Linked DNA regions of Homo sapiens: all the other regions are linked to region 3. The links come from fine-mapping of genetic effects on gene expression. A gene starts in region 3. Each other region holds a variant in brackets. All regions are shown on one strand. Distances are between the middles of the regions. Region 1 overlaps PLCG2 (phospholipase C gamma 2). Region 2 overlaps PLCG2 (phospholipase C gamma 2). Region 3 holds the start of PLCG2 (phospholipase C gamma 2). Region 4 overlaps PLCG2 (phospholipase C gamma 2). Region 5 overlaps PLCG2 (phospholipase C gamma 2). Region 6 overlaps PLCG2 (phospholipase C gamma 2). Region 7 holds the start of LOC105369213 (a long non-coding RNA gene).

Region 1 (4,065 bases), 97 kb after region 3:
TGGCAAAGATTCTGCCGATACCAAAGGTTGACCCCTGGTGGCCAGAATGCCACATTGAGCCTGCCCCTGGTTGTACTTGATCTAATGGTTTAAATATGTTAAAAATTAATTGCCTACATTTAAAACTTGAGAGATTATATTATATATTAAAATCTAGATATTTGGCTTCCCTTAGGAAAAAAATCGAGATCTGGCTATAAATAGGGTCACATCTCGCCATGGAACGGTCCACTTTCTCTGTATTGACCCAGCCCCATACAGCTCTGTCTGCTCATTTATGTTGCTTACCTGACCCCAAAGAAGTTTTGCTTTGGCAACCCTCATCTCCACTGTTTGAGGGTATAACTCTCCAGTTTGGTCACTGCATTTTAAAAATTTAATTTAGTGACAGATTTGAATAACAAAGTCCCAAGCTATGTAGATGGCTTCTGGCCAGCTCTAAGAACCTCACTGCTGTTGTGTAGGTAAATGCCCATCCCCTAACCTGTTAGCAAATTGTTTACTTCCTGTTCCTGGCTGGAAGCACAGGGCAGAGAAAAGTACCTGTTTTGTGATTTGGGGGGAATGAGGGCCTAGCTGGATTTCTCAGGCTCCTGCAGGAGACAGAGCTATTTATGGTGACTTATAATCCCCAGAACTAAATCCAGGGAGTGGGTTCATGCTTATCAGCAGCCAAATGGTTTCCATCGTGAGCTTGCTAGTTCCTCTTTGTGTCTAACCACCTGCCTACGTTCCACCTCTCGAGCTTCAGAGTTTCCAAAAGTTTGGCAGCAGCAGGAGGATAAGAAATGTAATCTCACGTTTGTGTCTCCCTGGTGAGGGGATATACCTCTAACTAGGCTGTAATAACAGTATCATTAACAAAGATGATAGCCAACATTTTCTCAGGTGGACTATTTGCTAGGCACTATCCTATGTGTTTTTTTTTTTTTTTTTTTTTTTTTTTTTATTTGAGACAGAGTCTTTCTCTGTTGCCCAGGCTGGAGTGCAATGGCACGATCTTGATTCACTGCAACCTCTTCCTTCCGGGTTCAAGCGATTCTCCTGCCTCAGCCTTCTGAGTAGCTGGGATTACAGGCATGCACCATCACGCCTGGCTAATTTTTGTATTTTTAATTGAAACGGGGTTTCACCGTGTTGGCCAGGCTAGTCTCGAACTCCTGACCTCAGGTGATCCTCCCGCCTTGGCCTCCCAAGGTGCTGGGATTACAGGTGTGAGCCATCATGCCCAACCTGCTCTATGTGTTTTGTATACATTTAATTCCCCCCTAGAGGCCTGTGCAAGAGCTACTGTTGTTATTGCCATTTTAGGGATTAAGAAACTGAGGTCCAGAGAGGTTACTTTGCTGAAGGCCTGTTTACTGCAGGGTAGTAAGCTGCAGAGCTAGGATTTGATTTTCTGCCCAACTTTGACGCATAGCCATGGAATACTTCTTAATTTTTGAATCCTTTGTATTAAAGAAAATGTAAAGCATATAGAAGTAGAGAGAATAGCGTAACAGACCCCCATGTATCATCAGCTGACTTCAGCCATTATCACCTTGTCACTGCCCTCACCCAAGTCCCTTTTCTCACACTTTGCAGCAGACATCAAGCAGCGTATCAGGTCATCTGCCAATACTGTAATTTAATACCTGGCTACGTGACTGCTACCCTGCTACCTCCTGATCAAACCTGTGAAGTCCCCTGTGGTTACAGCATTCTTACATAAAAATAGAAAGCACTTGCAAAAAATCAAAAAGAAAATTGAGAAGGCTGCTAACGTATCTCTGGTTGTTCCTATGATCCAGTAAGGCATTGAAGGATTATTCTGCCGGATTTTACATGGGTGTGAGCATGGGGGAAGTGAGTGATGAGCGTTCTGTGACGATGTTTGTGGAGGAGCTCAGAGATCTTGCAGTTTATTCTTATTGTCAGTGGCTGGCAAGAGGAGAGTCCACAGTGGAGAAGTTAGATAGAATCTCTGGTTAGCTTTTCTTTTTCTTTCTTTTTTTTTTTTTTTTTTTTTGTTTTTGAGACAGGGTCTCACTTTGTCACCGAGGCTGGGGTGCAGTGGTACAATCATGGCTCACTGCAGCCTCGAACTCCCTGGCTCAGATGATTCTCCCACCTCAGCCTCCGGAGTACCTGGGACCACAGGCGTGTGCCACCATGCAGGCTAATTTTTGTATTTTTTGTAGAGACAGTTTCACCATGTTACCC[A/G]GGCTAGGCTTGAACTCCTGGGCTCAAGTGATCCACCCGCCTTGGCCTCCCATAGTGCTGGGATTATAGACATGAGCCACTGTGCCTGGCCTAGCTTTTCTATTGATGAGATTTTACCCTTGGCCTTCCAGAACCAAATGGTTTCTACAGCCTAAGTACCACTGAGTGCGTAAGACCAGCTTCGGTTGTGAAAGGGCGTGTGCCTTCAGCCACGTGGGAAAACTCCATTCCTTTCCCTCCCTTTCTTAGTGCCCTGGCCCCTGCTTCTGTGACCCCCGCCTCTGGCATGGCCCCTTCTCTTGTCCAGCTGGTAACTTCTCCTGGGGCCCGACTCAGAGATGACATTTCCCTGTAGCCTTTTAGCTACCAGAAGAAATTAGTTTATCTATTATTTTAGTCACTCATCCAGTAAATGTGTGCGTGACCCAAGAGGCACAGTGGTTAACAATACAGCTGTTTCTCCTGACCTCACTGGCCCTTTGCTGGGGTGGGAAGGTCCTGGGATGTTGCCCAGAGTGACATAAGGCCCAGTGCCACCCCTGTCCCTTGGTTAGGTAGAATCTGACCACATAACCCTCCATGGTAATGCCGAACATAAATTAACTGCTGCCTCCACGGTGCACCCGTAGCATCTAGAATATTCTGTGATTGCTGGAATCTCATTTATTGTGTGTACATATGTACGTGTAGTGTGGGATGCTAGAGATTTACCAAGGTGGGCCTGGGTTGAAATTCTGGCCCTTGGACTTGTTAGGAGAAAAGTCCTTGCCTCCCTGGGCCTGTTTCTTGTTTCTGAAATGGGGCTTATTTTACTACCTGATGGGATCAGCAGGAGGAGTGACTGAGACTGTCACCGTCTTGCCCCAGCTCATGGAGCCCATGTTCATTTCCTGGGGCCGCTGTGGCAAGTACTGCAACTCGTGGCTTAAAAATAACAGAAGTGTCGGGCACGGTGGCTCACGCCTGTAATCCCAGCACTTTGGGAGGCCAAGGCGGGCGGATCGCGAGGTCAGGAGATCGAGACCATCCTGGCTGACACGGTGAAACCCTGTCTCTACTAAAAATACAAAAAAAATTAGCTGGGCATAGTGGCGGGTGCCTGTAGTCCCAGCTACTTGGGAGGCTGAGGCAGGAGAATGGCGTGAACCTGGAGGCGGAACTTACAGTGAGCCGAGATTGCGCCACTGCACTCCAGCCTGGGCGACACAGCGAGACTCCGTCTCAAACAAACAAAACAACAAAACACAGAAGTTTATTCCCTCACTGTACTGGAGGTTAAAAGTCCAAAATCCAGGTGTTGGCAGGGCCACACCCCTCGGAAGGCTCCAGGGAAGGATGTGTTCCAGACATCTTTCATGGCTTCTAGTGGCTGCCAGCAATGCTTCAAGCATTCCTCGGAGTGTGGACACCGCCTGGCTGCTGGTGGCTGCCAGCAGTCCTACAAGTGTTCCTCGGTGTGTAGATGGCATTGCTCTTTGGTGTGCAGACACCATCACTCCTCGGCATGTAGGCGTCATCGCTTCTTGGCGTGTAGATGTCATTGCATCGCTCCTTGGCTTGTAGATGTCATTGCATCGCTCCTTGGCTTGTAGATGTCATTGCATCGCTCCTTGGCTTGTAGATGTCATTGCATCGCTCCTTGGCTTGTAGATGTCATTGTGCCAGTCTCTGCCTCCATCATCACATGGACCCCTTTTCTCTGTGTGCTTCTCTGTCTCCAAATCTCCCTCTTTTTTTTTTAATTTTTTTTTTTTTTTTTTTTTTTTTTGAGAGGGAGTCTCGCTCTGTCACCCAGGCTGGAGTGTAGTGGCGCCATCTCGGCTCACTGCAAGCTCTGCCTCCCGGGTTCACGCCATTCTTCTG
Region 2 (4,065 bases), 150 kb after region 3:
TCCGTGTGCTTGGGCTGAGGCAGAGACTGGAAGCCCTTGCTTCCTCTGTACTGAGTTGCCCTTACCTGTACATCAGCATTTACCTGGTGCAGGGGGTGGGGTTTGGGGTGGTGCAGGCAAGGAGTGGATGCCTGGTTCTGCCACCTCTCCTAAGCCCAGGATATTCTTCATCTCAGCCAGACCCTGGGATGGTTCAAGGGTGCAATGGGAGGCAGAGCTGGAAAGGGTGATGGGGGCTCTGAAAGTCTTAAAAGCCAGGTCATAGAGCATGGGTGTTGCTTCCACAGGACATGGGGAGCCACAGAAGGTTCTTGAGCCGGGCTTTAGTAGGCAAAATAGTCTCATTTTCTAATAAGGTCAGATAAATAGTCTAGGATGTGTTTGGAAACCAGATCTGAGGAAGCATTATGAAACCTGTTCTAGAATTCACAAGGCACGTTTTTACGGATTGGAAAATGAAACTCCGAACCTCCTGGCACCCTCTCCCCGCCAGGTCCCTATCAGCTCCATGCTTCATTATTTAGCTCTCTCCCCATGGACGTATCTGGTAATGAAAATGCATTTTAAACAGTTCCACAGGCAGTATCTCTGCTAAACGGTGTGCTTTGGAAACGGGTTTTCTTTTTATTATTCCCGTTACAACTAACGTGAGTTATGTCTTGTTTCTTCACAGATTATTGAAGACAATCCCTTAGGGTCTCTTTGCAGAGGAATATTGGACCTCAATACCTATAACGTCGGTACGTGCACACATCATCTTAGCCTGGATTTCCACCCCTATCCCCCATGGGCTGACCTCAGCCCCGCCCTACACAGGGAGGTGGCTGACACAGGGTCCTGTCTTGAATGCCAGCTCCTTCCCTGGCTGAAGCTGAGTATTTAGGTCAGGCTGGTCAGTGAGTATGATGCTATGTCTGCTATTAATCTCTACTAAAACTGTAAGTGCTAAAACAAGGTCTCGTACATAAGTGCTAGATGGTGGTTAGCGGATATTATTACCAGCGTCACTCTTATTATTTCAGGATCCATCTGTGTTTCCCATGCGTTGCGAAGGAAAGCTGAGCTGTCAGCCTGGCTGAAATGCAGCGTGGAGTTGGGAGTCTTGGGTTCTAAACCCAGCTCTGCCTCTCTGTCGCTGTGAGACTACAGGCCTGTCACTTCTCCTCTTTGAACCTCTGCTTCCTGGTTGCTCGGCTGGGGCCCAGGAAACCCAGCCCGCCCACGTTGACCATGCTGCAACGGGATGTGAAGGCGTGGCCCCAAGGCTAGGCTTGTCCAGTGGTGGCCAGGGTCTGATGTGTGCTGGGTTTCCTGGGTCTTGAGCCTGCCTGCTTTGAAGTGGGTGTGGTGCAGCTCCCATGTGAAGGGACTCTGTAGCGGGCCTCCTTGTTCTGGGCAGCCCATGACCCTCCCTGGGCAGGCACGGGCATGCTCCCCTAGGACTCAGGTGACAGCAGCCCCAGGAACTTCCTGCTTCTATTGCCAATGCTCTGCTTTACACATTCATTCATTTATTATTATTTCTTTTCGCGATAGAGTCTCGCTGTGTCACCCAGGCTGGAGTGCAGTGGCGTGATCTTGGCTCACTGCAACCTCTGCCTCCTGGATTCAAGTGATTCTCCTGCCTCAGCCTCCTGAGTAGCCGGGACTACAGGCATGGGCCACCGTGCCTGGCTAATTTTTGTATTTTTAGTAGAGCTAGGGTTTCGCCATGTGGGCCAGGCTGGTCTCAAACTGCTGACCTCAAGTGATCTGCCTGCCTTAGCCTCCCAAAGTGCTGGGATTACAGGCATGTGCCACCATGCCCAGCCTGCTTTCCACATTTATAACCTGCTTCTTTACCTTTACAATGATCCAGCAGGATAGGTAGGAGAGGGATTCTTTGCTCCGATTACCAGATGGGAAAATCAAGGTCCTAAGTGACCGACCACCACATGTGCTGAGGTCCTTTGGGCAGGGGGGTGCAGGATCCCTGCATCCACTTCTGGTGCTCTTTGTATCATCTTCCCCCATCCCTGTATCTGCAGAGCAGAGGCACATGGCTCATTGGTTCTGAGTAGAAATCTTGGAGTCAGGTTTGAACTGAGCCTCAGTTTTACTACTACTAGCTGTATGACTTTCCACATGTGACTTTCTCTTAATGAGCCTCAGTTTTGCCTCCTGCAAAATGGGCCTAGCAAAAGCAGGGTGCCTTTAGTCTCAGCTACTCAGGAGGCTGAGGTGGGTGGATCCCTTGAGCCCCAAGAGTTTGAGACCAGCCTGGATAATGTAGCAAGAGCTCAAAATTAAAAAAATAAAATAAAATAAAGATGCAATACATGTAATCTGCTTAGAATATTGCCTGGTATATAAGAGCTCAGAAATCTTAGCTACTAATATTATTTGGCAGATAAGTTTCCCTGTCATAATCTTTTCTTCTCTGTAAGATCCTTTCTCTGTGTCTGGAGAACCCACGCCACATTTCTCTCCTAGTTTCTGGTGACTCTTTGGTGTTTTTGGCTCATGGCTGCATTC[T/C]TCAGTCTCCACATTTGCCTGCACATGGCTTTCTCCCTTGTGTCTGCATCTGTTTTTAAAGCCATTTAGCTGGGTGTGGTGGCTCATTCCTGTAATCCCAGCACTTTGGGAGGCCAAGGTGAGTGGATCGCTTGAGCTCAGGAGTTCGAGACCAGCCCTGGGCAACATGGCGAAACCCCTCTCTACAAAAAATACAAAAATTAGCCAGGCTTTGTGGTGTGCACCTGTGGTCTCAGCTACTAGGGAGGCTGAGGTGGGAGGATCGCATGAACTTGGAAGGTGGAGGCTGCAGGGAGCCAAGATCGCACCACTGCACTTCAGCCTGGGTGACAGAGTGCCACCCTGTCTCAAAAAAAAAAAAAAAAGCCATTTAAATTATTTATTCTTTATATGTAAAAGATTATATGTAACAACATAGAAAATTATGCACAATATGCTAAGTGAAACAGTTCACAAAATTTTATGTATTGTATGTAAACATTTTGTAAAAATGCCAAGTTGCTTAGCTATATTTTAAATATTTTTAAAATGAACATGTATTGTTTTAGTAATTTGTAAAAAATATTTATGATGAGTGTAAAAAGCATTTTCTAATTGGTCAACCAAAAAGATATTCAGTGTTTCTTTTGATCAAGACGAACACATGTCTATAACTAAAGTGGACAAGAGGGTATTTTTTTCAGGTTCTCTCATGCATTTTAATGTTTGTTTTTTTTTCCTGCATCTTAAGTGTCCCTCTCCTTTCTCTTATAAGGATACTCATACTTGTTGGATGTTGGAATTGCCCTAAATCCAGGATAATCTCATATTGAGATCCTTAACCTAAGTACATCTGCAACGACCCTATAAGGTCCCATTCACAGGTACTGGTGACCTGACACATCTTTTCGGAGGACCCTACTGAATCTACTGCATCCCTTGAGTAGTCATCTGTGATGTGTACTTACCCCGATGGAAAGTAGACGTCCCCATCAGTGCTAACCGTGGTCATAGCAGTGGTGGTTGGTCCATGAGAGAAACAGCTCAGGCAGGGTGCAGTCTGGTCTTTGTGGCCCTCTAATAGGCTGATTGGGACATTTCTTATTCTCTTACCCCAAGTGAAAGCCCCTCAGGGAAAAAACCAGAAGTCCTTTGTCTTCATCCTGGAGCCCAAGCAGCAGGGCGATCCTCCGGTGGAGTTTGCCACAGACAGGGTGGAGGAGCTCTTTGAGTGGTTTCAGAGCATCCGAGAGATCACCTGGAAGATTGACACCAAGGTAGGCACCTGCTCACCCGGGTGCAGGTGGGCCTGGCATTCTGAGGGCTTTGGTGCTCAGTTGGGACTGTGGGTGGGTCCAGGCAGCAGGATGAGCAGGCCCAGGTCCTACTCAGAATTCAGGAAGGAGACCAGGTGGATTCAGACAATTGGAGCACCTCTTGTTAGAGAGAGGCAGGGATAGTGGAGGTGCCCTGGGAAGGTGGGTCTGGTTGTCTGGTTCGAACCTTCAGAAGGCTGAGTGCCTGCAGCAATGCTCATTGATGATGTCTTTGCGGCCCTACATATCTTACCAA
Region 3 (4,065 bases):
CTTCAAGTGGTTGATGTCATAATGAGTCCTTCCAAGATCTCTTTAAAAAATTGATGTGTTAAGTGATCTGTGGTGATGAGCACAGCTATACACGCCAGTTGGGAGTGCTGAAAGAAATGAATCCACAGATCTTGTGAAGTCACAAACGAGTCCTATGGCTTGGGATACAACATTGACAGTGAGAGTGATATTCCTCAATTAAAAAACGCTATAACAGGCCGGGTGCAGTGGCTCATGCCTGTAATCCCAGCACTTTGGGAGGCCAAGGTGGGTGGATCACTTGAGGTCAGGAGTTTGAGACCAATCTGGCCAACATAGTGAAACCGCGTCTCTAGTAAAAATACAAAAAATTAGCCAAGCATGATGGCATACACCTATAATCCCAGCTACTCAGGAGGCTGAGGCAGGAGAATCGCTTAAACCTGGGAGGTGGAGGTTGCAGTGAGCCGAGATCGTGCCACTGCACTCCAGCCTGGGCAAGAGAGCAAGACTTTGTCTCAAAAAAAAAAAAAAACAAAAAAAAAACAAAAAAAAAAACAAAAAAAACCAAAAACACACACACACAAAAAAAACGCTATAACAGACCAGTGGCACATGCCTGTGATCCCAGTGCTTTGGGAGGTAGAGGCAGGAGGATTGCTTGAGGTCAGGAGTTCAAGAACAGCCTGGGACACATAGTGAGACCTCATGTCGAAAAAAGAGAAAATTAGCCAAGTGTGGTGTGCCTCTATAGTCCCAGCTCTTCAGGAGGCAGAAGCAGGAGGATCGCTTGAGTCCCGGAGTTCGAGGATGTGGTGAGCTATGATGGCACCACTGCACTCCAGCCTGGGTGACAGAGTGAGACCCTGCCTCTTAGAAAACAGAAGCTATAACTCAAGCAACTTGGAAGTGAAATTCAAGTGCCTGACAGCTGTCTAGGTGCCCCTGAAACTGCCTCTAGTCACAACAAAGATACCTCCATCAAAGAGCATAGGAAGGGTTTGAATCAGATAGCTTCATGCAACACACGAACGGAAAAATAAATTTCTTAAAGAACATATTAGCTTCTTCCCATGAGATCAGGAAAACGGGACATCAATTGTCTGGGGTTCTTTGCTCCTGACTCCCTTTGGGGCTGGCACTATGTTGATCACGTTTTACAGATGGGGAAACTGAGGCTGTCGGTTTTTAAGTGGTCTGCCTAAGGTAGCAGTAAGGGTTGGTCTGACTCCAGCGCAGCCTCAACGAGGGCTTCAAATTAGGGCCATGAATTGGCAATTCCTGGCGGGTAATTGTGAAGAGTATATTTATTTTTAATTTTTATTTATTTATTTTTGAGACGGAGTGTCTCTCGGCCACACCCATCCTAGCTCATTGCTGTCTCGAACTCTCGAGCTCAGACGATCCTCCCGTCTAGGCTTCCCAAAGAGCTGGGATGACAGGCGTGAGCCCGGGCGCCCGGCCGGGAGTGTGTTAAGTATACGGCAAACACCTGGACTGCGGCCGGCTCTCCAGGAATGCCATGATATTGGGGAATTCCCTTTGCACCTGGCCAAGTGGCCTCGGGCAGGTAGCCTCCCCTCGGGTTGCCTCAGTTTCTTCTTTGGCACGCAGAGGCGGGGCTCCAGGCCTGGGCCGCTCCATGGCGGGGAGGGCGCGGGGACGCTGCACTCGGGGTGCGCTCCGAGAGGCGGACCCGGCTGGGCGCGCCTGGGGCGGGGCGAGGCGGGGCGAGGCTGGGCGGTGCGGGGGGCGGCCCCCGAGGATCACGTGGCGCGGCGCCGCGGCCGAAGCAGAAGTAGCGAGCGCCGGCGGCGGAGGGCGTGAGCGGCGCTGAGTGACCCGAGTCGGGACGCGGGCTGCGCGCGCGGGACCCCGGAGCCCAAACCCGGGGCAGGCGGGCAGCTGTGCCCGGGCGGCACGGCCAGGTGAGCTGCCCGGCCGGGAGCGAGGCAGGCAGGGCGCCCAGGGACCTGCGCCCCGCGGGGACCGGCTCCCAGGGCGCTGCGTCCGAGGGGGTCTGCGTCCTGGCTCAGCCGGAGCGGGCAGGGACGGGGCGCACCCTCGGGGACCCCGGCCCGCCGTGCCCGGGGTCCGTTTGGTGACGGCAGGGATCCTGGCCCAGCCGCTGGCCACTTCCTCACCCCGGGCCGGCGCCACCTCTCCGGTCCGTGCGGTGGGGCGGCCCCAGCTTTGAATGGGGACCGGGAGGAAGGTCAGGGGTCGTGTGGGGGCTGGCGTTCAAAACTCCTCTTTTCGAGCGGCTCTGCGTGGGGTGGCGCCGTCTCTCTTGACGGCCCTTGTGCCCAGAGCTCGCGGACGCTCGGAGCCACACTTCCCTGTCTCACTTCGGTGGTTGCGGGTGGCGGGTGGGAGCGATACCGCGGGAGGCGCAGTCCTTCCCGGAGACTTTTGGAGAGCTTGCAGGACACTCGCGATGCCCGCTCCGCAGCTGTCTGCGTAATTATGCGTGTGTCTGTGCGTGTTGTGTTTTGTTGTGTTTTGGAATCCCAAAGAGGGCATTACCCGCACAGCGCAAGAGTTCAGGTTAAAGACGTGCCCCGTTTGGACGGGGAGCTCCTGGATTCCAGCAGGACGGTGGGGCGGGGCTCTCTTGGTACCCTAATCTTGAACTAGGGTGAGAAACTATGGGGGGCGGGGTGGTAAAGGGGTGACATGGCGCGAGGGAAACAGGTGGCCTTGCCCGTCGGAACTTAATTTGAATTTCAGTTCCATCAGTGGGACCCTGGGCAAGTTGAAGAACCTTTTTGAGTCTGTTTCCCCCTCTGGATACTGGAGCCACCCAATTTTCCAGGGCTGTGTCGAGAATTGGGGCTTATTGCTGTTCCACGAGGTTCGCTGAGAATCGGGGCGCATCCATGGAGAGTCCTTGGGCAGTTCCTGACTCTCTGGTTCAAGGGCATTCTCTGGGGCATGGGCCCTCGTCCTTGACTACAGTTCTGCGGGGAAGTTTTACAGAATTTTGAAGTCTATGCCAGCCTCAAGCAGTTTCTCTTGCAAAGGTGTGTGTGCAGTCACGTGTATACCAGCTCAGGGACAATCGTCATTGTGAGCCTCACTGATGTTTAAGTCACCTAATGATGCAGCTGCCTTCCCCCACCAGCGACTGGAGTATGGGCAGTTCCTCTGGAAGTGGAAAAGCACAGACCCCATGAATAGCCCTTTTGCACTCATTGGGTAGAGTCAATGAAAAGCTGCTGGTGAGAAAACTTTTGAAAACATTTCTTGGTCAGGCACGGTGGCTCACACCTGTAATCCCAGCACTTTGGGAGGCCGAGCTGGGCTGATCACTTGAGGTCAAGCGTTCCAGACCAGCCTCACCAACATGGTGAAACCCCATCTCTACTAAAACTACAAAAATTACCTGGGCGTGGTGGTGGCCGCCTGTAATCCCAGCTACCCAGGAGGCTGAGGCAGGAGAATCACTTGAACCCAGGAGGTGGAGGTTGCAGTGAACCCAGATCATGCCACTGCACTCCAGCCTGGGTGACAAGAGAGACTCCATCTCAAGACAAACAAACAAACAAACAAACACACACAAACACTTCTTAATTTAGAAAACAGCAAGAACACAAAGAGAAAAATTTGCCCGTTACATCATCAGTTAATATAAATAAAGTCAAGTTGTATCCTCTACCCTCTCCCAGCCTCCGATAAATAGTAACCACTCTCCTGGATTTACCAGAAGATCACCTTTATAAAAAGGGAATTGTATTATACTCATACAGTTGCAACTATTGTCTGAAGCTATTTTTTTATTGACCTCACAAATCTTTCCAGATCAAATTGCTTATCTATCATCCTCATTCTTTCTGATGGCTACTGAGCGTTCTTCAGTGCATGTGCACCATTATTTATCCAGGAGGCCCCCCACATTGATGAGCAGTTGTTTTCTGTTTTTTTTTCTTTTTTTGTATTTCTATTGCAACTATTGCTTCCGTGATTTTCTGTCGTACATATTGCATCTTTGTGCATGTCTTTCTTTACATGTACAATTGCAGGATCGAAGCATATGCGTGTTTTGCTTTTTAGTAGCTGCTCACAGGTTGCCCTAAAGGAGCAGGG
Region 4 (4,065 bases), 180 kb after region 3:
TCCAAGTTGCAAAACTTCTGCCCCATGCTCCCTTTGGGCATGCTTGTGAGATGCCAGGTTCACATTTTGGTTTGGAAGGTGTAGTCACCACATGGTTGTTCTCTCCCCTGCATCCTCCAGGAGAGCGAAGAGGAACTTTACTCCTCCTGTCGCCAGCTGAGGAGGCGGCAAGAAGAACTGAACAACCAGCTCTTTCTGTATGACACACACCAGAACTTGCGCAATGCCAACCGGGATGCCCTGGTTAAAGAGTTCAGTGTTAATGAGAACCAGCTCCAGCTGTACCAGGAGAAATGCAACAAGAGGTAGGTCAGCCCCTCCACCTGCAAAAACTTTTGGGGGGTCTCTAGGCACGGTGATGATGGGCACCACGGGCCAGGCTTCTGGAAAGCCCTCTGAGTTGCTTTCTTCAGAAATCCTTGGCCGGGCATGGTGGCTCACAGGCCAGGCATGGTGGCTCATGCCTGTAATCCCAGCACTTTGGGAGGCTGAGGAGGTTGGATCACCTGAGGTCAGGAGTTCAAGACCAGCGTGCCCAACATGGAGAAACCCTGTCTCTACTAAAAATACAAAAATTAGCTGGGCATGGTCGTGGGCGCCTGTAATCCCAGCTACTTGGGAGGCTGAGGCAGGAGAATCATTTCAACCTGGGAGGCAGAGGTTGCAGTGAGCCGAGATCACACCATTGCACTCCAGCCTGGGCACCAGAGGGAGACTCTGTCAAACAAACAAACAAACAAACAAACAAAAAATCCTTTGGCACCCTTGACTCTAGTTCTCTTTGTTCTAGAAATTAACCTACAGTAATACCTTAGGCGCTTGCCACTTCCCCTAAGTAGAACTGTTTCCTCTAGAAGGACACTTCAATTTAATAGCGAAAATAAATGATGACCACTGACTTTTAAGGAGTACTTATTGTGTTTCCAAGAATGGGCTAGTCCAGCGGCTCTAGACTGGGTCAAGATCCCCCAACAGGGATGCTTGTGGTTGTGCTACAGGCATGTAATGGGGTGCGGGGCGGCCGGGGTTGCCAAGTGTTTCATAATATGTCTAAATCTTCTAAGAAAGAATCATCCAGACAAAAATCCTAATAGTAGCCACCAACGAGAAACTGTGCTGCCTCCCTTACTCACATTATTCTCATTGAATCTTCATGTCAGCCTGCAGAGTAGCTCTTACTCTGTTTTACCATTGAGGAGATTTAACCTCTCTGAGTCTCAACGTCTTACCAGGAACTTGGAGTCTGCCTCTCTGACACTCAGCCCTATACCATCCAGCTATGAATGACTGGCAAATGTACAGAAAGAGAAATGTTACAGAGTTCAGCACGCAGCCCATTTCTCATGGCCCACTGCTGATGGTGAAATCTGTTTTATTTCAGGTTAAGAGAGAAGAGAGTCAGCAACAGCAAGTTTTACTCATAGAAGCTGGGGTATGTGTGTAAGGGTATTGTGTGTGTGCGCATGTGTGTTTGCATGTAGGAGAACGTGCCCTATTCACACTCTGGGAAGACGCTAATCTGTGACATCTTTTCTTCAAGCCTGCCATCAAGGACATTTCTTAAGACCCAACTGGCATGAGTTGGGGTAATTTCCTATTATTTTCATCTTGGACAACTTTCTTAACTTATATTCTTTATAGAGGATTCCCCAAAATGTGCTCCTCATTTTTGGCCTCTCATGTT[C/G]CAAACCTCATTGAATAAAAGCAATGAAAACCTTGATCAATTAAGCCTTCTGTTGCACGACCTGTGCAGTGAACAGGATTTCTTTTCTGGCCAAGAAGATTCTACCTCTAATGATCCAGGTAACTGATGTCCATGGAGGATGAGCTGGAAATGTAAGAAACTATTCATGAGATTCTGAAAAGGATTTTAACTCAAAGGCAAATGATTCCATAAGGGCCCAAAGAGAAGCCCTACCCACAGGCAGCCTGCTCAGTTCAATGTACTTTAACTACCACCGGCTGCCTGCTGCAGTCCACAAGAAAATGGCTGAGTGATGGGATCTGTTCATTAAGACAATTTCTAATTAATGGTGACAGCTTGTTTTGTGACTAGAGTTACTGGGATGGAGGGTAGGAATCTTGGGGCCTCTTTGTTTTAAAAAGCCCATCAGAGAGACCAGAGCCGTGCTGCAGGGGCAGGTTCTCACTTGCCCCTGGCTCTGCCAGCTGCTGGGAGGCTCTGGCCCCACTAGTCCCTCATGGCCCTACTGAACTGGCTGGGAGGCTGCTGGAATGGCCCTTGGTCCACAGCTCTCCACAGGCAAGAGGTCAACTGCTGCTTGAAAGAGGTAGACAAAAGTTAGGTTGATGGCGAAATGTCTCTGGGTTACCCAGTCTTCTGGAGCAGCAAGCTGAGCTTTAATGGGCTAAGCATTAGGGTGTTACAGAAAATTTCAAATGCAGCCATCTCCCTTGGGGCAGATCTACCTAGTTCATGACAGTATGTGCGGCTGGCCAGGGCTTTACACCTCTGCATCTTAAGTTGTTAATACATACCAATAATGTAATATGGCTTTTTAAAGGAGAGGAGAGTGCTGGGTTGGGAAGGGAGGTGGTTGGTAGAGTCACAACTTCTCAATGAGTGAATTTACAGCTGATGGGAAAAGGAGTGTAACTGTGAAAAACGATGGCTGTGGTGGGGAAGAACAAACCAGCAGTAAGCCTGATGTTTGATGTGGATGGAACTGGCCCCTAGAAACCCATCTGACCCTCCTCTTGTTACCCGAAATGCTGGGCTTAGTATGCATGTACTGCTGAAAAGCAGGGCAGAACAAATCAGGCTCTGACCAGAAGATCCTTCTGGTCCCTTCACTCTACAAAAACTTACTGATCACCTCCACATGCCAAATACAGTGCCAAGATTTGGGGGTGTGGATGTTTAAACAAAAAGCTGTGGGTCTCATCAATCATCTCCATCCACAAGCTCCTAAAAGAAAGCCATTTACCTCGCTTGAAGCCAGGAACACAGGGAACAGCAGTCTGGCCAAGGAAGGGCTGTTATCTGGTGCTATCACTCCAGTTACTCCTCCAACTGGGAGCTGCTATTTTATTTGGCAGTCAGCAACTGAAGAAAGAACATTCCTCTTAGTGGCAGATGTTCAAAGCAACTTTCAAGAAAGGCTAGGTGAGAAAGGCACTGGGATGAGTGCTGCAGGCACTCTGTAGCCAGGGCCCCATTAGCCTTTGGCCAGGTAGCCACCAGAACCTATTTATTGCACCTGGCATCTCCCCCAACCCCTCTCAGCTCTGTTAGGACTTCCACACAGCAGAGCTCAGGTGTTGCTGTCATTACCTCCTTTCAGCTCCTCACTTCATTCTACTTTAAAGCCACAGTGCTAAGGCCTGCATCCCCTTTCTGCCCAAATGGGTTTTTTGCTACCATATCAAAGAACCTGACATATGGCGGCATAGGAAGCAGAAGCTAAGCCTCTCTCCAGCTGCTGCTGTGTAAAATCCATGCGTGGCCAAAGAGAAGTCAGGGGATTATGACATAAATGGTGCTGGGAAGAACCCTCTGCCTAAAACTGTCTCCTTCTCCTGGTGCTACAACCGGAATCCACCATGAGAGAGTACTTTCTTCGGTTCTTTCCTCCTGTCCTTGACAGAGTAACACGTTAATCTGGTTCTTGGTGGTGTTAGGGACTGATTCTCTCAGGAAAGGCACACATGGTATGATGGCTCTTCCCAGAGTCTATGTGATGCTACATAACTTCAGTATCTAGCTGAGACATGCTTCCTACATGACTGTTAAAGCACAGCCAATCCAGGCCAAGAAGACTAGTAACAGGCACATTCTGAAAGATGGAAGCAGCACTGATAGATCAAAACCACCACTGCATATGTATTACACTGTTTTTGTTCACCATTTTCCTAAGTGTGTTATTTAGAATATTGGTTATTACAAGGAAAAATAAAGTGGGGAGGCTGGTTAGGCCTTGTGAGTTTGGGAAACTTAGGTTATAAAAACTAAATAAAGTTTTTCTACTGTGAGACTAGATGTGCAGGAGTGAAAGGTGTAGAGGGTCTTGTTTTCCAAATTCGATCTCAGAATCTTTTTGCCAG
Region 5 (4,065 bases), 160 kb after region 3:
CCCTTTTTAATACTTGGAACCCCCAGAGGGCAAGAGTCCACAGTGATACCAATTGGGACAATATCATCAGAACCCCTTGAATGTCAAAGAGGGAGATTCCTGGTTTCCTTTTATAATCTGAGCATCCAGCCATTGCAGCAAACATTAAGAAAATGCACAGATGAGACACAGAAGTACTGATGACCTTTTTCTCTGTGTGCAGAAAATCCTGACTTCCGAGAAATCCGCTCCTTTGTGGAGACGAAGGCTGACAGCATCATCAGACAGAAGCCCGTCGACCTCCTGAAGTACAATCAAAAGGGCCTGACCCGCGTCTACCCAAAGGGACAAAGAGTTGACTCTTCAAACTACGACCCCTTCCGCCTCTGGCTGTGCGGTTCTCAGATGGTGGCACTCAATTTCCAGACGGCAGGTAAAGGCCGACTGAAGGTAGTCCCGTCCCTGCAAGGTGGCGGTTGCAGTCACTCCAGGCCGAGTCACCTTGGGTCAGCGATACCATGTGGTGTCCAAGAATGAGTGATTTGTCCGAGGGACTGCACGGTTCAGCAGAGTAATGGTTAGTATGAGGTCCAGCAGCTGAATGGAGGGATGAGAGGACCGAAGGCTGCTTGGCTTACGCAGGCTTCGTGATTGTAAGTAAGTGACAGAGGCTGAGTTAGTCTGGCTTAGAAAAAGAAAATGCATTAGTTCATGTAATTAAAGCATCTTTGGAGTTCTCTTCTCCAGGCCTGTTGCTGTGTGAGGGCTTTCTGCTCAGACTTTCTTCCAGAGACATTTACATGCTGGCATAACTAACATACACAAACTTCTGGACACAAAGTGATCGCATAAATCACGGGGCTTTGTGCTTTTGTTGTTGTTATTTAAGACCTCTTTCGAGGGATCTATTCATCAGTAGCCTCCTTTACATTCTTTTTATAGCCACATCGGATTCCACAGAATGGAACAATCATTTATTTAATAAGTCCCCGTGGAGGCACATGTAGGTATTCCCCATTATTTGCTGTCATAGACAGCACTGCCTTCTGTACCCTGACGTGAGCGCCATTCCACAGATGTAGGAATATGTCTATGGGACAGAATTCTCAGAAAGGCAGGGTGGGTCAAACAGCGCTTGCATTTTGATCAACTTTGCCCTGAGGAAAACCACTGAAGACGTGCCTGAGCTAAGCCACACTGCCAAACTGCCCTCCATAGAGATCGTGGGCGGGGATGCAAATAGGTGGAGGTTGGAGTACGCTCTTTTGGTATGACTTCGCTGAGTTTTGTTGAACTTTTTGCCGTTTGCACAACTGAGAGGTGAAAACTGATACATCGTCGTCCATTAGAGCTTCTTCTTGTAAGGGACATTAACCAGTTTTTCCCTCATTTAGGGAGCAGTGGCATTTTCTTTTCTGGGAACTATTTGTGCTTCTTACCTGATGTATCTACTGCAGTAGGTATTTATAGCATAGATGTATCAGAACTAAGAGGTTAAAAATTTATATTCACATATTTGTCATTTGAATTAAAATTGCCTATGCAATTTATTGCTACATAGACACTTTTAGCAAGTTTGAATCTTTTCTTTTATGATTCGGGATTTGGTGACATACTTGGAAAGGTGTTCCCCAGTCTGGGAGTTTGCTGTCTAGAAACCCTATATTTTCTTTGAGTGAGATACCTATTTGAACAGCTGCCTCACATTAATTTGGGGAAAAGGTGAAATTCATTCCCCACCTAGAAACTCCTGGCCTAGGGGGCCAGCGTGCTCATGCCTGACTTACAGCAGGCGTTCACTTTCCTTCCCAGATAAGTACATGCAGATGAATCACGCATTGTTTTCTCTCAA[T/C]GGGCGCACGGGCTACGTTCTGCAGCCTGAGAGCATGAGGACAGAGAAATATGACCCGATGCCACCCGAGTCCCAGAGGAAGATCCTGATGACGCTGACAGTCAAGGTAAAGCCAGCCCTCCCTTCCTGCCAGGGGAGCCAGCCGCCCTCCCTGGGGGCTGGGCCGATGCTGTCTTGAGAGCAGGGAACCCATGTCTAGGGAGGCTGGTTGTCTTGTTTAAACGATCCCCATTCAGGCAGTGTTTGAGGATCTTTCTTTCTTACAGTACACTCCGGGGTCGTTCTGGGAGAAGAGGGAAGAGAGGGGAAACCTCCTCAAACCCACTTCCCCTTGTCCTCTGTGGGGGTGAGGTATGACCCTATCTTTCTGGGGTCCTGGTGAGGTCAGCCTCTGGCCGGAAAGAGAAAGAAAACATGGGAAACAGCCATTTGGTCTTAATGGAGAAGTTTTTTCCCTTACTTTGTCCAATTCCAGGGCTTTTTAAAATTCATCTGACTTTCAGAGAAAGTGTTGTTGCTTTGTAAGAATTTTTGAAAAGTAGAGAAATGAATTGCATTTCTCCTAAGGTTAAGGGCGGGCGGGTGGTAGGGGGAAGAAGCATACGTAAACACAGGCCTTTAAATAAACAGCAGTTATAAAAAGAATGCCACACTGTTCCTCAGCCTTTCCTAGGGGTGTGGAAATCCAGTGATTAAGCTCTGCCTTGATCAGAGGCACCTGCTTGGGCATGGATGTGTGCATTCATGAGCTCAGGTGAGTTTTACCTGTTGAGTCAGGTGGCATATGGGGCCGAGACCCAGGCTGATGCTGAGGAACTGTGGGATCTACCACAGTCCACCTTCATCCACTGCAGAAGGTTGCTCCGGCTTTTCCAGTGAATCTAGGAAAATTAGGGCTGGCATTGAACTCATCCAGTGTCACTCTAGAACCCAGCTGCAATCCACGCTAGGCTGCCTGTTCAGGACCCCAGGGGGGTTCCAATGCTTCCCTTTGGTGTCCCAGGTTCTCGGTGCTCGCCATCTCCCCAAACTTGGACGAAGTATTGCCTGTCCCTTTGTAGAAGTGGAGATCTGTGGAGCCGAGTATGACAACAACAAGTTCAAGACGACGGTTGTGAGTAAGTCAGTCACCTTGGCCCCTCTGCTTTTAAACGTCCGGCCAGTGAATCCTTTGTGGGAGTGCTCTTCGTGGGGGATTTTGCAATGCTCTTTAGTTGTCCCAGGGTTTTCTTTCCTCCCTCTTGCCCACATGGTTCAGCTTGAGGAGGGGATACATACAAAGGGCCACTTTCTGAAATCCTTAGACTTTCCCCAGTGCTGTTTGCCTGCCTGTAACTCAAGTCCGGAATCGTAGGTGAGGCCCTGACACTAGGTTGGTCCTCTCTGTGCAACAGCCCAATCTGATTAATCTCCTGAGTCAAAGGCCAAGAGGCAGAGACACAGAGAGAGGGGGTGAACCTACGTGGCTGACCTGACCCAGAGGATCAGCCTAACCTGGGAGATCTTAGCCCCTAGAGGGCAGGAGGGACAAGAGGAATGCTTGCTCTTCCAGGAAAAGCCAGGAGGGAACCGTGATTGGTGGGCCTTCTAAAGCACAGGATCCTTGCCCCTGGTAAAAAGTAGCCCAATGAACAACTCAGATGCTGACCAAATAAACTGGCATTTATGGAGAGTGGCAGGATTGCTGCTTGCCTGCTCTGTGAGGCTGGGCTCTCCCCTGCCAGCTGTAGAACCCCCTGCTGGTGGATGTGGCTCCCAGGCTCTCCTCCCCTTTTGTCTTTTCCAAAATCCACCTTCCTGCTCTGCAAACAAACACCTCCCCCGTTCCCTTGTCCCTGATCCTGGGGCGGGGAGATGGGAGGTGGTCTCCTTCCTCTGCTCACCAAGGGACCAGCCTGCAACAGCAGCTTCCAGGATTGCTCAAGGTGGGGTGGGGGAGTGAAGATAATTATTCAGATTTTCTTAGATCTTGGCATAGATGCATATTTATTTACATGGTTGCTAAGGGGATTCACAGCTGAAGGATGCGGAGATTGTCTTACCAGAAGGGGGCAGCTCCAATGTGGCCTCTCATGAGCTTTGATCTCCTTCCAGATGATAATGGCCTCAGCCCTATCTGGGCTCCAACACAGGAGAAGGTGACATTTGAAATTTATGACCCAAACCTGGCATTTCTGCGCTTTGTGGTTTATGAAGAAGATATGTTCAGCGATCCCAACTTTCTTGCTCATGCC
Region 6 (4,065 bases), 130 kb after region 3:
AAATTTTTTGTAGAGCTGGAGTCTCACTACGTTGCCCAGGCTGGTTTTGAACTCAGCTCAAGCAATCCTCTGGCTTCGGCCTCCTGAAGTGCTAGGATTACAGCTGTAAGCCATTGCACCTGGCTGAAAATTAGAATACTAATAACACGCAAATAATCCTGGACACCTAAATGATGCTTACCATGTGCTGGGCAGTATTCGAGACACCTTGTGTGTGTGGTCTCGTTTACTCTTCAGGATGCCTCTTTGAGGTGGATACTGTTATCATTCCTGTCAGACCGCTGGGGTAGTAATACAGTGTGGCTCAGACAGCACGGGTGACCTGCTCCAGGACACTTGGTTCATATGTGGCAGAGCTGGGATTTGAATCCAGGCATCCTGGCTCTAGAGAAGCAGTTATATATATAAAAGGGGGATGGGGTGGGGTGGGGTGGGGGAAGTAGGTAGAATGTTCTGGAATCCAGGCTGAGGGTCTAGCCTATACTAAGGCCCTGCATCTGGTTTTGTTGTTGTTGTTGTTGAGATGGAGTCTCGCTCTGTCGCCCAGGCTGGAGTGCAGTGGCGTGATCTCGGCTCACTGCAACCTTCGTCTCCCAGGTACAAGTGATTCTCTTGCCTCAGCCTCCCAAGTAGCTGGGATTACAGGCATGCACCACCATGCCCAGCTAATTTTTGTATTTTTAGTAGAGACGAGATTTCACTGTATTGGCCAGGCTGGTCTGGAACTCCTAATCTCAGGTGATCCACCCGTCTCGGCCTCCCAAAGTGCTGGGATTACAGGCATGAGCCACTGCGCCCAGCCTCCTGTGTCTGTTCTAGGAGCAGAGGGAAGGTTGTGTGGCCACATGTAATGTCCCCGCCTCTGAGGCCCTGGCTGCCGCAATGGCCTGGCCTGCGTTCTCCCAGCACTGATGGCGTCCTCTCCCCGCAGGCGGTCAGGCCGGGTCCAGCACTGCCGGATCCGCTCCACCATGGAGGGCGGGACCCTGAAATACTACTTGACTGACAACCTCACCTTCAGCAGCATCTATGCCCTCATCCAGCACTACCGCGAGACGCACCTGCGCTGCGCCGAGTTCGAGCTGCGGCTCACGGACCCTGTGCCCAACCCCAACCCCCACGAGTCCAAGCCGTACGTGTCTGAGGGTGGAGCAGGAGGCAGGCGGTGGTCGGGTTAGCTCCACCAGGCAGAGAAGCTGGCCTGGTGGTTCAGCCGGGCCAGTCCCCCAGGACACCCTCTCCCCAGCCCACCGGCATCTCAAAATTGCCGAGGTGGCCAGTTTCCAAATTCCTGGCACCATGACCTGTGTCCTTTTCTCTTTTCTTTCTTTCCTCCCCTTTTCTCTTTTCCCTTTCTTCTACTTTGTCTTCATAGCCCCGAGACTTTGGGCTTTGATTTTCAGAGGGTCATTTTGGCCTGGGGATATTCTCTTACCTTTCAGAGCTCCTTCCTGTTTGTTCTGAAAATGAACAAGGAAACAATGATTATAAGAGTCTCCCGCTGATTTTTTTTATCTAGTGAAATGAGTATCAAGGTAGGTCTTGCGAAGGGTCAACAAATTCTGGGAATAAAGAAAAAACAATTTTTAGGCAGAAAGCTGCAAAAATGTCCATTTCCGAGGAGGCCGTATTACTTATAGCAACTTTTTTTTTCACTTTTTCTGTCACATTTTCCTATGGATTGCCTCTTAAAACTTGCTATTTCTTATCTTAAGAAATAACCCGAAAACAACCCAAAACCTTGTGAAACTCCTGCTGTGATCTCCGTCTTCGATTTTCTGAGACACGTGGCAATAACTGTGCCTCCCTGGGAGCCTGGCTTTTCAGGTTTGGGCTGCTTGGGTGGATGAAGATGAATCAATTTTTTGAGACAAGGTGTTGCTCTGTTGCCCAGGCTGGAGTGCAGTGGAACAATCACGTCTCGCAGCAGCCTCGAGCTCCTGGGCTCAAGTGATCCTCCCACCTCAGCCTCCTATCTGGGACT[G/C]CAGGTGTGTGCCACTGTGCCCAGCTAATTAATTAATTAATTAATTAATTAATTTTGAGACCGGGTCTCGCTCTGTCTCCCAGGCTGGAGTGCAATGGCACGATCTCAGCTCACTGCAACCTCTGCCTCCCAGGTTCAAGAGATTCTTGTGCCTCAGCCTCCTGAGTAGCTGGTATTATAGGCGCACGCCACTGGGCCTGGCTAATTTTTGTATTTCCTTTTTTTTTTTTTTTTTTTTTTTTTGGGACAGAGTCACATTCTGTTGCCTAGGCTAGAGTGCAGTGGCATGATCTCGGCTCACTGCAACCTTTGCCTCCTGGGTTCAAGTGATTCTCCTGCCTCAGCCTCCTGAGTAGCTGGGACTACAGGCGCCTGCCACCATGCCTGGCTAATTTTTTGTATTTTTAGTAGAGACAGGGTTTCACCGTGTTAGCCAGGATGATCTCGATCTCCTGACCTCATGATCCACCCGCCTCAACCTCCCAAAGTGCTGGGATTACAGGCGTGAGCCACCACGCCTGGCCCAATTTTTGTATTTTTAGTAGAGACAGAGTTTCGCCATGTTGGTCAGGCTGGTCTTGAACTCCTGGCTTCTCGCGATCCACCTGCCTTGGCCTCCCAAAGTGCTGGGATTACAGGCGTGAGCCACTGTGCCCAGGCTATTTTATTTTTTATAGAGATGGGGGTCTCATTGTGTTGGCCAGGCTGGTCTCAAACTCCTGACCCCAAGTGATCCTCCTGCCTCAGCCTCCCAAAGTGCTGGGATTTCAGGTGTGAACCACTGTGCTCGGCCCAATGTATTATTTTGGGCTTGAAACAGACCCCTGGGGTCTTCCACTATTCTTTTCACAAATTCTCTTTGCTGAGGTGCCTTTGTCTGGGGAAGCCCACTGTGTGATTTCCATGGTCGTTTCCAGGGCCAGGTTCCAGGTGTCACTGGTGCCATTATCTTGTCCTCTGCGGGTGGCCCACTGACAGCCTGGAGACCGCTCACCTGGTCGTTTTCCCTGGCCCTGTGCCGCAGGTGGTACTATGACAGCCTGAGCCGCGGAGAGGCAGAGGACATGCTGATGAGGATTCCCCGGGACGGGGCCTTCCTGATCCGGAAGCGAGAGGGGAGCGACTCCTATGCCATCACCTTCAGGTGGGTGCGAGGGTGGGAGGCACATGCTCTACAGAGGGGCTTGGCAAGGACAGATGCGGAGAGACAAGGGGGAACTTCAGGTGGAGGCTCACCTGCAGTGCCCTGCCCCCCCAGCATCAGCGACAACAACAACCACCACAGCAAAAGCCGCTGCGAGAATGTGCGCTCCTGCGTGCCAGGCACAGTCTGCGTTCTCCAGGGCAGGATGTTCTGTAGTAACTCACTTTGGCTTCCAGTAACTCTGTGGGGTTGACATGACCATGATCCGTGTTTCTCAGAGGAGGAAACTGAGGCACAGCAAGATTAAGTAACTTGCTGAAGCATGCAGCCACTAAGTGGTGGGGCTGGGATTCGAGCCCAGACAGCCCAGGCAGCCCAGGCCTGTGATGATATAGATCTGGTTTCCTCCCAACTGCAGCTGCTGCCCAACCACCTCTAGGCCTGTGGTTCTCTAATGTTACCCCAAAACGCCAGATTCTCCCACTTCCACTAATGACAAGGAGCCGAGGAGTGACTCAGACTCCGTGTAGCCTACTGTCCCTCCATCTCCCCAGCCCCAGGGTTTCCCTGCATGTTCTTACGGTGGTAACAGTCTGCTATATGTTGAGTTCCTAACCGTGTTCTAGACACTGGACTGCCTTCAAGGCCTCATCTGATTGAATCCTTTGCTACAGCCTGTGAGAGGTAGGTCTAGTTATTGCAAGGGAGGAAACAGGACCAGAGAGGTTAAGTGACCTGCCTGGAGTCACACAGCCTCATAGTCAACTGAGTTTGAGGTTCAGATGCAGGCCTGTCCGTCTCCAAAGCCTAAGCTCTTCACTCCAGAGTCTCTAGCCAGAGGCCTGGGGGCCAAATCTCCAGCCAGAGGCCTGTGGGCGTCTTTTGTACACTGATGTGAAAAACTGAGAAATTTCACTGAAAAACTCAGATTGCTTCT
Region 7 (4,065 bases), 41 kb before region 3:
CCTCCTGCAGCCCCTGGCAGCCACCGTCCTGCTTTCTGCCTCTATGAATCCGACTACTCTAGGAGTCTCCTGTTTGCAGAAACTACAGTATTTGTCCTTCTGTGTCTGGTTTACTTCACTTAGCACAATATCTCTGAGGTTTATCCATATTGTACCGTGTGTCAATTTTTTTTGTTTTGTTTTTTGTTTGTTTGTTTCTTTGAGATGGAGTCTTGCTCTGTTGCCCACGGGAGTGCAGTGGCGCAATCTCGGCTCACTACAACCTCCGCCTCCCAGGTTCAAGTGATTCTCCTGCCTCAGCCTCCTGAGTAGCTGGAATTACAGGTGTGCACCACGACGCCCAGCTAATTTTTGTATTTTTACTAGAGACGGGGTTTCACCATGTTGGCCAGGTTGGTCTCCAACTCCTGACTTCAGGTGATCCGCCTGCGTTGGCCTCCCAAAGTGCTGGGATTACAGGCATGAGCCACCGCGCCTGGCCATGTGTCAGAGTTTTATTTCTTTTACAGTTGACTAATATTCTGTTGTCTGTCTAGACCACATTTCTTTATCCATGCACCTGTGGATAGACTTTAAAAATCCACAGCGGTGGGTTTTTAAAGTGTCCTGGTGGTGCTGCTGTGCAATCAGTGATGAAAACCAAAGCCTGGATGGCACGGTGGCTCATGCCTGTAATCCCAGCACTTTGGGAGGCCAAAGCGGGTGGATCACTTTGAGGTCAGGAGTTGGAGACCAGCTTGGCCAACATGGCGAAACCCCGTCTCTACTAAAAATACAAAAAATTAGCCAGGTGTAGTGGTGGGCACCTGTAATCCCAGCTACTCAGGAGGCTGAGGCACAAGAATTGCTTGAACCCAGGAGGCAGAGGTTGCGGTGAGCCGAGATCGCGTCACTGCACTCCAGTCTGGGCGACAGAGTGAGACTCTGTTACATAAAAAAGAAAAGAAAGAAAAAACCAAGGCATAAGTCCAGCATTTCGCAAATCCTCTCTGCACAATAGAATCACCTGAGAGCTGTTTTAAACAATGCGGATGGCTGGCGCCTGTCCTAGAGCAGCTGCATCAGATTCTGGGCTGGGGGAGAGGTGGGGCTAGCCAGGAATTGAGTTCCTTGCAGCGCGGGGGAGGGCAAGGTGTGCAGAATTATTTCCCAGTCTCTGCTGCCTCCTGGTGGCACAATTGACAACAGTCGGGTAGTGACGCCTGTCAGCATGGTTCCTCTTCCTCTCCAGGGCTGGCTTACCCAGCCCCAAAGGACCCCACTCCCGGGGGTCTGGGGACCCTGAAGGCTCTTGTCTGACCCCTCTCCCCACCTGTATTTCCTGGCTGGCCTTGCGTGCCTCTGTGTTTAGAAGAACCGACGAGTTTATTAGAGAAGGAAAGACTGCACTGTGTGACCTTGAATAAGACAGTTCGCCCGTGCCTCAGTTTCCCTGACTTTCACGCAAGGATCACCACGGTTTCCTCTGTCAAGTTCCTGAGATGGCAGGCAAGCATGCGTGTTAGGGCTGGGGAGGCCACCGCGGGGAGGTTTCGTACCCTCAGCATAATTGCCATTAGGGGCCAGATCACTTGGTGGGGACCGTCCGTGCACTGTAGGGTGCTGAACAGCTTCCCTGGCCTTGACCTCCTAGATGCCAGTAGCATCCCTGAGCTGGGATAATCAAAAACTGTCTCCAGATAGGGGCAATGTCCCCTGAGTGCAGGATTGCCAAATAAAATAGTTAAATTTGAATTTAACTTTGAAAATTTGAATTTCAGATAAGCACATAATGTTTTTGTATAATTATGTCCAAAGACTGCATTTTTATTTCCTAAATCTGGAAACCCTTCCTGAGGGACAAAATCACTCCAGCTGGCACTAGCCAGTGCCCTTGTGAGTTTTTGACACCTGTTTCAAGAACTCACACCAGGCTG[G/A]GGGCTAAGGCGGCAGATGGGGAAGTTGTGGCAGGGGCGGAACTTGCCCCAGCCTGGCAGGGGGAGGGGTGCCGTCTTGCGGGAGTGGGACAGGCAGGCCCAGGAGTGATAAGCGTGAACTAGAGAGTGCTGTGCAGGAGGAAGCTGGGGCCGCCGTCGGGCCTTCTCCCTCCAGGGGCCCAAGAGCCACTGGTACTCAGTGTCTGGGTGGGGGCAGGGGGGATTTTTGTTCTCCCAGCACCTGCGGCTGTTGAGACCAGAGAAGCTGGTGGTCGACCACAGCCTGGGGTATTAGTTCACCCCTAGCTTCTCCCCAGCGAGACCCCAGGGCCCTTGGGCACAGGGGATTAAGCCTCTATCTGCTTACGTGCAAGCGGAAGAAATAGGCCCAGAGAGCAACAGTGGCGGGTCTGCAGTCACACAGCCAACTTGCGCTTGTGGCAGTGGCAAGGTTGGTGAGTATCTGAGTCTTCAGGCCACGGCATTTTCCGCTCGAGTGGAGCCTGGTAAGTGGCCTCTATTTCTGGTACATTCTCTGGGAGCCCCCAGTATTTTCCAGACAGAGGGCACTGAAGACAGGCTTTGTGCTGAGGATGGGTCACCTGAGGTCCAGCTGCTCCCCCGTACTCCTCCAGGGAAGGGCTGGGACCCCTTCTCCTGCGGCTGCCCCTAAAAGGACAGATTGTTGCTTTTGTGGGATGAGGAGAGACAATGTGGCATGGTGGTTAAGCACGTGGACTTGGAGCCAGACGGCCTGGGGCTGAATCCTGGCTCCGCCTCTCACCAACTGTGACCTTGGGCAAGGTACTTAAACACCCTGTGCCTCCATTCTTAATCCATGAAATGGGCATGATGAAATGACACCTACTCCGTAGGGTTGTTAGAAGAATGAAATGAATTAGTAAGTGCTCAGAACAGTGTGTGGGGCCGGGCACAGTGGCACATGCCTGTAATCCCAGCGCTTTGGGAGGCCAAGGCAGGTGGATCACTTGAGGTCAGGAATTTGAAACCAGCCTGGCCAAGATAGTGAAACCCTGTCTCTACTAAAAGTACAAAAATTAGCTGTGTGTGGTGGCCCATGCCTGCAATCACAGTTACTCGGGAGGCTGAGGCAGGAGAATCACTTGAGCCTGGGAGGTGGGGGTTGCAGTGAGCTGAGACAGCGCCAGTGCATACCAGCCTGGGTAACAAAGCAAGACTCTGTCTCCAAAAAAAAAAAAAAAAAAAAGAAAGAAAAGAAACAAAAAGAAAAGAAGAAAACCAGTGTGTGGCAGGTACGCAGGTAGTAAGGTTTACTTTTCTTCTAGTGACATTTACTGTCTTCCTTAGGAAGCTGGTTCAGTGGGGCTGTCGACCACAGGTACCAACCCTGCCCTCCCCTACAGAGTATGTGACGTAGGCACAGCCAATGACTGCATCCCAGTGCTTCGACCAGTCACAGGGTCAAGGGTGAGCACGTGACCCCAGCAAATGAGCACATCCCTGGGGCTGGCGTGCAGAGGCTCTGGGAGTAAAGCTTCCTTTTCCCTGGCCAGGTGCAGTGGCTCACACCTGTAATCCCAGCACTTTGGAGTCCCAAGCAGGCAGATCGCCTGAAGTCGGGAGTTTGAGACCAGCCTGGGTGAAACCCCATCTCTAATAAAAGTACAAAAAATTAGCCGGGTGTGGTGGTATGTGCCTGCAATCCCAGCTACCCAGGAGGCTGAGGCAGGAGAACTTGGGAGGCATAGGTTGCACTGAGTTGAGATAGTGCCAGTGCACTCCAGCTTAGGCAACAGAGCCAGACTCCATCTCAAAAAAAAAAAAAAAAAAAAAAAAAAAAAAAAAAAACCGAAACCAAACCAAAACACAACCAAAGCTTCCTCTTCCCACTGTGGGTGCAGAGGCCTGGGGCTGTGGTCAGCATCCCTAGCACATGGGGCTTAAAAAGAATGAAACCAACCCATTGAGGGTTCTCTTGAGTCCCTGGATTCACCTTGCCTGCCAGGCAGAATCCTCCCTGGAATTCCCACAGATGTGAGACAGTGAATCTCCCAGTTTGCTTAAGCAAGTTTGAATAGAGTTCTAATCCATGCACCCTCTGTGCCCCATAGAGCAAGAGGGGTTCCCCCAAGGCAGTCCCCTTCCTCCATAGACCAGCGCTCTTGGC

The links.
Region 1: its variant is fine-mapped to the expression of PLCG2 in subcutaneous fat (GTEx, PIP above 0.99). The same link has a PIP of 0.9 or more in skeletal muscle.
Region 2: its variant is fine-mapped to the expression of PLCG2 in whole blood (TOPMed, PIP above 0.99). The same link has a PIP of 0.9 or more in pancreas.
Region 4: its variant is fine-mapped to the expression of PLCG2 in whole blood (INTERVAL, PIP above 0.99).
Region 5: its variant is fine-mapped to the expression of PLCG2 in whole blood (INTERVAL, PIP above 0.99). The same link has a PIP of 0.9 or more in monocytes.
Region 6: its variant is fine-mapped to the expression of PLCG2 in whole blood (TOPMed, PIP above 0.99).
Region 7: its variant is fine-mapped to the expression of PLCG2 in whole blood (INTERVAL, PIP above 0.99).

The regions. Positions count from the first base shown.
Region 1 is chr16:81,874,030-81,878,094 of GRCh38, forward strand. The region is part of intron 7 of PLCG2 (phospholipase C gamma 2); the gene reads left to right. Among named protein-coding and RNA genes, the nearest start is that of PLCG2, 97 kb to the left of the region's middle. The variant A/G (reference allele first, on the strand shown) is at 2,203.
Region 2 is chr16:81,927,885-81,931,949 of GRCh38, forward strand. PLCG2 (phospholipase C gamma 2) reads left to right here. Exons shown (of 33, transcript NM_002661.5): 24 at 674-740; 25 at 3,613-3,770. Among named protein-coding and RNA genes, the nearest start is that of SDR42E1, 82 kb to the right of the region's middle. The variant T/C (reference allele first, on the strand shown) is at 2,515.
Region 3 is chr16:81,777,518-81,781,582 of GRCh38, forward strand. It overlaps PLCG2 (phospholipase C gamma 2), which reads left to right and starts at 1,774. Exons shown (of 33, transcript NM_002661.5): 1 at 1,774-1,907. RefSeq lists silencers at 1,267-1,561, 1,590-1,859, 1,890-1,989, 2,000-2,079.
Region 4 is chr16:81,956,575-81,960,639 of GRCh38, forward strand. It overlaps PLCG2 (phospholipase C gamma 2), which reads left to right. Exons shown (of 33, transcript NM_002661.5): 32 at 121-305; 33 at 1,382-4,065. The coding sequence ends at 1,424. Among named protein-coding and RNA genes, the nearest start is that of SDR42E1, 53 kb to the right of the region's middle. The variant C/G (reference allele first, on the strand shown) is at 1,685.
Region 5 is chr16:81,935,967-81,940,031 of GRCh38, forward strand. PLCG2 (phospholipase C gamma 2) reads left to right here. Exons shown (of 33, transcript NM_002661.5): 27 at 203-412; 28 at 1,792-1,937; 29 at 2,835-2,949; 30 at 3,926-4,065. Among named protein-coding and RNA genes, the nearest start is that of SDR42E1, 73 kb to the right of the region's middle. The variant T/C (reference allele first, on the strand shown) is at 1,832.
Region 6 is chr16:81,909,589-81,913,653 of GRCh38, forward strand. PLCG2 (phospholipase C gamma 2) reads left to right here. Exons shown (of 33, transcript NM_002661.5): 18 at 932-1,132; 19 at 3,009-3,128. Among named protein-coding and RNA genes, the nearest start is that of SDR42E1, 100 kb to the right of the region's middle. RefSeq lists an enhancer at 3,224-3,723. The variant G/C (reference allele first, on the strand shown) is at 1,985.
Region 7 is chr16:81,737,015-81,741,079 of GRCh38, forward strand. It overlaps LOC105369213 (a long non-coding RNA gene), which reads left to right and starts at 2,027. Exons shown (of 4, transcript NR_189584.1): 1 at 2,027-2,422; 2 at 3,246-3,365. It also overlaps a transcript of PLCG2 not described here. RefSeq lists enhancers at 1-338, 1,243-1,302, 1,529-2,311, 1,873-1,922. The variant G/A (reference allele first, on the strand shown) is at 1,917.